Homo sapiens: one gene and its partner. The protein of the gene in region 2 purifies or fractionates together with the protein of the main gene of each other region. This does not show direct contact. Each region holds a gene or a part of one and is shown on either strand. Other genes may lie near its edges.

Evidence for each region. The genes of interacting proteins can lie anywhere in the genome.
Region 1: the proteins of SLC2A8 (region 2) and C2CD2 purify together in Homo sapiens (affinity purification with mass spectrometry; 2 studies listed by BioGRID and IntAct, with this or other methods). This does not show direct contact.

Annotation. Positions count from the first base shown.
Region 1 is NC_000021.9:41,943,827-41,947,551, forward strand, and holds part of C2CD2 (C2 domain-containing protein 2), read right to left. Parts: intron 1-3,725.
Region 2 is NC_000009.12:127,395,669-127,399,268, reverse strand, and holds the start of SLC2A8 (solute carrier family 2, facilitated glucose transporter member 8), read right to left. Parts: upstream 2,101-3,600; 5' UTR 2,039-2,100; coding exon 1,983-2,038; intron 1,894-1,982; coding exon 1,731-1,893; coding exon of another isoform or gene 1,365-1,730; coding exon 1,158-1,364; intron 1,098-1,157; exon of another isoform or gene 956-1,097; coding exon of another isoform or gene 935-955; intron 1-934.

The sequences.
Region 1 (3,725 bases), on a different chromosome or scaffold from region 2:
AAAAATCAGCAGAGAATTAAATGTACTGCTCGAGAGGGCTGAAATCACAGTTTCAGGGCTGCTCTGCTGGCATTCTCTGTGGTGGGAGCTTGTTTGAGTGGGACCTGCTGGCCAGGGCCACGCTCTGAGCTTGGTGATGAGACGGTTCTGTGCACCAGGCTCTCTGGCCTGAGAGAACAGAACCCAGCACAGAGGCCAGTGCCAGGCAGAGAACCATGAGCAGGCAACATGCCAGCCGCTCGGAGGATGCAGCGGAGAAACAATGTACCTTCTGTAGGAGCCTAAAGATACGCTGTTGCCTTATACCAGCCTGGGTGCAGACTCATGCTCCCCTGAGGCGGCAGATGCAGTGTTTACCCTCTTCCCTTGCTACCTTCTGAATTCAAACCTTGAAAAGAGTTTGCAGCCGGGTGCCACGGCTCACGCCTGTAACCCCAGCACTTTGGGAGGCCGAGGCGGACGGATCACGAGGTCAGGCGATCGAGACCATCCTGGCTAACATGGTGAAACCCCGTCCCTATTAAAAATACACACACACAAAAAAAATTAGCCAGGCGTGGTGGCAGGTGCCTGTAATCCCAGCTACTCGGGAGGCTGAGGCAGGAGAATGGCATGAACCCGGGAGGCAGACCTTGCAGTGAGCCGAGATCATGCCACTGCACTTGAGCCTGGGCGACAGAGCGAGACTCTGCCTCAAAAAAAAAAAAAAAAAAAAAGAAAAGAAAAGAGTTTGCTGGAAAACTTAAGGTCAAGGGATGGTCTCACAAAGAAAATAAGTTATTAAGAGAGATTGCTTTTCCTTTTCTGATCTGCCTAGTCCTTGAGTTTCAGGAGCAGGGTGTGCCTGCCTGCCACACACAACCACAAATTCAGGTATCTCTGCATCTCTGCTGCTGTGTCAATGCTGACAGAACCCTCATTCCAGACCCCACTCCACTTAGACTAAAGGAAGACTTTGTGTCCACATAGAAAAAGAAACACACAAGAATTGCCAGGAAAACACTGAAAAAGGAAGACAAGGGTGACTAGCTCCACCAGATATTAAAACAGACTATAGAAACCCCGTAATTAAAACTGTGTGGCTCTGGTGCACCAACAAACACATGCACTACGAATGAACAATATAACCACACTGAAGGGGATGGGAAAAACACGGATATAACCTAAGAAGCTTGGAAAACTGCATCTTGACTGCATATAAATGCTATAATCCAGTAAATGTGTTTCATAGGTTGGGAACTCAGAAACTACTTCATGCATATACTAGAACTGAACACATAAGTAGTAAGTAAATAAGACAGCAGGTGTGCAATGTCTTACTCTTGGAGAAGGGAGTTAAGAATAAGAAAGTGAAAAAACTAAAATGAACTCTGTACCGTTGGACTAGAACCCAAGGTACAGGATACAATCACGGTTTTTCAGATAAACACAGAGAGAAATACACAGAAATATAGACATGCGCACACACGTTGGTATACACACGTATGTTTGCTATTGCTGAACACTGAAGGGGAGCAATGAGAACCAAGAGGTAATGAACACACTTAATGCCTAGGTCTTGGTTTCTAAACACTTCTCCAATAAAAGGAATCAGGGCTGCTTGAAGAAGTGGCTGAATCCAGGGCCTGTGGGGAGCCAAAAACAAATATTTTGTGGAAACATGAAGTAAGGAAATGAAAAAAAAAAAAAGTGGGCTTGATGGAAGAACACAAGAGGCTACTCTCAAAGGAGCACCCTGATGGCCCAAAGGAGAACAACCTAAGCAACTGATTCGGTTTGGCTCTGTTTGTAACCACCATGTGTCAAGAGAGGGACCTGTAATCCTCACCTGCAGAGGGAGGGAGGTAACTGGATCATGGGGCAGTCTCTCCCATACTGTTCTCATATAGTGAGTTCTCACAAGATCTGATGCTTTTCTAAGTGTTTGGAAGTTCCTCCTTCCTTCTTCCCTCTCCTGCCGCCTTATGAAGAAGGTGACGGCTTTCCCTACCATCATGATTGTAAGTTTCCTGAGGCTTCCCCAGCCATGTGGAACTGTGAGTCATTAAATGTCTTTCCTTTATCAATTACCCACTCTCAGGGAAGTCCTTTAGAGCAGTGTGAAAACAGACTGATACAACAATATAATAAATAGTGATAGTATGGGATTATAACCCACAGAATAAAATCCATATCCATGAGTCCATATTGAGCTAAACAATCAGATAAATATCTCATTGGAGGAGAAATGACAGTTCTGTCTTGCGGGAGAGTTCCAAATAATAAAGACAGTAAGGAAGAGGAAACAGAAAGTCACCATCAAGAGAACTGCACCTGCGCCATCACTGCACACAAGATACACCAATGGTTGCGAAATCAGTGAGGAAGAGTTTAAGGAGCAACGGGCTCTGTACAGGCTCAAAGCATCTCCCCACACTACCTGTTAACTACAGCAGGAAAGATAAAGGAGGTGACATGATGTGGATCTGTGTCCCTGCCCAAATCTCATGTCGAATTTTAATCTCCAGTGTTACCAGATGGGCCCGGTGGGAGGTGACTGGATCACGGTGCGGGGAGTTCTCATGAATGGCCTAGCACCATCTCCCCTTGGTGCTGTACAGTGAGTGAGTTCTCATGAGATCTGGTTGTTTAAAAGTGTGTAGCACCTCCCGCCTCTTTCTCCCCCTCCTGCTCTGGGTCATAGAAGATGACCTTCACCTTCCACCAGGATTGTAAGTTTCCTGAGGCCTCCGCAGAAGCAGAACCTGCTATACTTCCTGGACAGCAGAACCATCAGCCAATTAAACCTCATTTCTTATAAACCACCAGTCTTTCTGGCATTTCTTTCTGGCAATGCAAGAAGGGACTAATACAGGAGGAGACATAAAATACAAGAGGATGACCCCAGCAGAAGTCACCTTAACCAAGGCACCAAGCTCAGCATCCTCTACAACAAGACACGCTGACATCACAAGCCCCAGACACAGTGCACACCACTTCTGTGGTTTGTGTAATCTCGCTCCAACCATATGAAAATGCCAGGCAAATGGAAAGACAGTCAGCAAAATAATGATCAACAGTCTTTAGTTATCAAGGTCATAAAAAACAAAGAAAGACTGAGAAACCCTGACAGACTGCAGGTGATGAAGAAGGAACAACTCAACGCCACAGGTACCCTTAATGGGACCCTAGAACAATACAAGGAGACAGGTGGAAAACTGGTGAAATTCAAAGAAGGCCTTCGCTTTTGTTGTTAGGCATTGTGACAATGTTAATTTCTTTTTCTTTCTTTCTTTCCTTTCTCTTTTCTCTCTCTCTCTCTCTCTCTCTCTCTCCCTCCCTCCCTCCCTCCCTCTCTCCTTCTTTTTTGAGACGGAGTTTCACTCTTGTTGCCCAGGCTGGAGTGCAATGGCGCGATCTCGGCTCACTGCAACCTCTGCCTCCTGGGTTCAAGCAATTCTCCTGCCTCAGCATCCCGAGTAGCTGGGATTATAGGCATGCACCACCACGCCCAGCTAATTTTGTAATTTTAGTAGAGATGGGGTTTCTCCATGTTGGTCAGGCTGGTCTTGAACTCTTGACCTCAGGTGATCCGCCCGCCTCAGTCTCCCAAAGTGCTGGGATTACAGGCGTGAGCCACTGCGCCTGGCCTAATTTCTTGAACTATTACATTGCATTAATCTCCTTGTGTTATGAATCATAGTAACATGCCACCAATGTTAATTTCTTGGTTCTGATCATTGAGC
Region 2 (3,600 bases):
GTAGGTCTGGACAGGCGAAAGATTCCACCTTGTTAACCAGCTCCACGTGACGCCCACCCAGGATCCTAGCCCAGGGCCCACGCTTTGAGTGGTGGCCTTGGACTAGAAGCACGAACTCTCTGCCTCGGTCACTACCAGTGGCTGCCACTAGCTCCCTCCTGGGCCCACAGGCCACCAGGCCCTCACCCATGCATCTAAGGTTATTCCATAGCTTAGGCCCCTAACACAGGTGTGTTTCTGCCCAGTTAAAAAAACCAAAGACATAAAAGGCCCAGCTTCTTCCCCACCCTCTTCTGGTCCAGCTGCTGCTGCCGGTTAGCAAACGTTGGTGAAATGAGCACCCAGGGAGGGGCCTGAGTGGCTGCTTTCAACCTCACTTGGGGGAGATATTGTCCAAGCCCATGGCTGGGGGCAGTTCATGGGTCACCAAGCTGTCAGGATCCAGTCCTCTACAAGCCATGCCAGGGGCTGTCTATCCAAAGTCCCACTGAATCCTGACCACTACCTCAGGGGCTAATGCCATAATCCCTGTTTTCCAGAGAAGGAAACTGAGGCCCAGGGAGGCACTCTGCTCAGGTTAGTGGCAGAACCAGGATTTGACCCAGATGTTCGGGGCTCCCAAGTGGGCAGCCTGGGTCAGGAGGGGGAAAGGGGGAAGATGGGGAAGCCAGAGGGGCTGGCCTGTGAGAAGGGAAGGGGAACACAGAGGCCAGCAGCCTTTGCCCCAAGAGAAATCAGGACAGGAACTTCCTGCTAATTGCAGTCATTGACCCGAAGCCAGGGATGAAAACCAAAATGTAGGGAGTGGGCTCCTGTGGATCATCCGCAGGTTTGCAGAGCAAAAGAGGGGCACGGCTAAGTGGGACAACCCTGGGTTCCTGCAACTGCTTCCCCTCTGACTAGCTGTGGACCTCGCCTGGGCAAAGGACTTCACCTTTCCGAGACTGCATGTCATGACCTCAGTGTAAAATGGAGAGAACAGTAGGATCCTTCCCAGGGTCGACGGGAGGGACCGCGAGATAACGCAGGGACTTCAAGCCTGGCACCCAGAAGGTCCCGCCAGGGGGAGCCGCGCCCCCAGGCCTGGGGAGCGGTTTGTCCCACTCCCCCTCGGTCTCAGGCCGCGAGACAGGACACTCGAGAGACGGGACACTCACCGGGGCCACTAGGGAGGCAACACCGCAGGCCAGGCCGGTGAGGAGGCGGCCCCCCAGCAGCATCCACACGTCCTGGGCCGCGGTGATGACGGCAAAGCCGGCCACGAAGGGCACGGAGCACAGCAAGAGGCTCAGCTTGCGCCCGGCGCGGTCCACCAGCCAGCCGCCCAGCACTCCCCCCGCCGCGGCACCCAGGGTCACGACAGCCTGGAGGCGGGCGGCTGCTGAGGAGGGGGCGCCGAAGCCGCAGCCCATCCTCCCCCTCCACCCACTCCCCGCGGGCTCAGAGGTAAAAGAGCCGGGGCCCCGCGCCCGTCCCGAGGGGAGGGGTAGGGGGCTGAGGGGCCCGGTGCTCGTCCCGAGGGGAGGGGTGGGGGCTGAGGGGCTCGATGCCCGTCCCGAGGGAAGGGATGGGGGGCAGAGAGGCCCAATGCCTGTCTCGTGGGGAAAGGTGGTGGCGGCGGGGCCCGATGCCTGTCCCGAGGGGAAGGGTGGGGGGCGGAGGGTCCCGATGCCCGTCCCGAGAGGAGGGCGTGGGGTCCCAGGGCGGGAGGAGCGAGCCCGGGGCCTCACCCCGAACCAGGAGGCGGCGGCGTCGTCCAGGCGCGGGGCCGGGGGCGCGGCGCGCTGCAGGCTAGGGATGGCCGGGGAGCTGTAGCCGAGCGCGAAGCCGAAGCTGAGTGGGCCCAGGGCAGCGGCGAAGGCGGCGAGGAAGACGCGGCGGCCGCGGGGCGCGCTGGGGGGACAGGGCCGAGGGTGAGCGGAGCGGACGCGGAGGGGCGGGAGGGCGAGGCCGCATCCGGGCCCGGGTTCCCCGGAGCTCACCTGCCGCCAGGAGGCCCCAGAAGCGGCTGGGTTTCCTCTGGGTCCTCGGGCGTCATGTCGGCGGCCAACGCCGATCGGCCAGCTCTGGCGCCTGAACCGCCACGGGCCCTGCGAGTGCGGCCCGCACCGGCCTCTCGCAGCCAATGGGCGGCGGGGGGTGGGGGACGGTGCTGGGCGGGATCGGAACCGCAGAGCAGGAGCAGCCAATAGGAACGCAAGGCGGGGCTAGCGAATCAGCTAGGACCCGCCCTTCACATTAAAGCAGACCAATGGGAGCATAGAACCGATTAGCGAAGCGCGCTGGAACCGCCCCTAGGGCGGAGCGGTCCAAGGTACAGGTGGGGCGGAGTTTCCGTCTGGGAGAACAACCACCCAATTGGAGTGTAGTGCGAGCCCATAGACGGGGCCAGAGAGCTGCCTCAGAACTGAGCTGGCCAATGAGGTTGGAGGGAGGAGTTTTTTTTCTGGCACCTCCTCTCAATCTGGCTTCAACCAATGAGGGTAGAGGCGGGGCGAAGGCGAAGCACGTGGGCCTCAGCCCGAGACTTCCCGCCCCCAACTCCGAGAAGCTGCACCTGTCCTGCCCGGTCGGGTCTGCAGTTCCTGCTCCGCTTTAATCGCTGCCCTGGGGACTGTATTGGAGGCGTCTGACCTATGCCTGGGCCCAGCTCTGCAGGGGAGAGAGCCTCTAAGCAGACCGTCCTGGGCCGCCTCTCTCTCCTCTCGGAGGGCGAGACTGGTCAGACGCTCCCGCTGGGCTGCTGGCGGCGGAGGCGTGGCCCTGTGCACCGAAACCCACTTTCATGCTTCCCAGATTGCTGAAGGCTCGGGTCTCCAGGTGCTGAGGACCAGTGGTAGGTGGGGTCCCCCACGCCGTATGTGTGACAGATCTGGGCTCCACTCCCCCTCTTAAGTGTCACTCACTTCACAGGGAGTCCTGACTCTTGAATCTTCATCTACCTGCCTCCATATTTTGAGTTCCCTGTGGATTTTAATGCCACCTTCTCCCGTGTGCACCCAAGTCGAATGATGAGGCACTGTTGGATCTCACCAGTTGTACCCGATTCATACCCAACACTCTGGGTGCAGGCAGCTGTGGTGGAATGCTGGTGTAATTCTGGAAAGAGCCAGGGCATGGGAGTAAGAGGCTTGGCTTGTAATCCCTCTCTGGGCCTTGTGTTTCCTCATCTCTAAGTGGGGATGACCATTATCTTCCAGGAGAGTTGTGAAGCAAGGTAATGTATATAAGACATGTGAAGCACTCAAAGGCTAACCGGTATGATGAAGACAGTCATCTGATATGTTGCAGTCACTTGATGGTTCTAGCAACCAACATTTTTCAGTCCTGACCACAAGCCTATCCTTAAAGACTTAGGCAACTGCCCTTCTGTACTCCCACAGCATCTAATGCTTGATAACTCGAGCACTAGATGTGTATTCTTATCACAGCATTTATCACTGCTTTGTGATCCCTTGTTTACTTCCGTCCTTCCCCCAATGGACATGACCTCCTCTGGAGAGGAGGCACTTGGTGTGTGCAGAGTGGATCAATGCCTCCAACTCCATAGGCAGACACTGCAGTTAGATGATTTTCTGTGTGACTCAGCCAGTCGGGTAC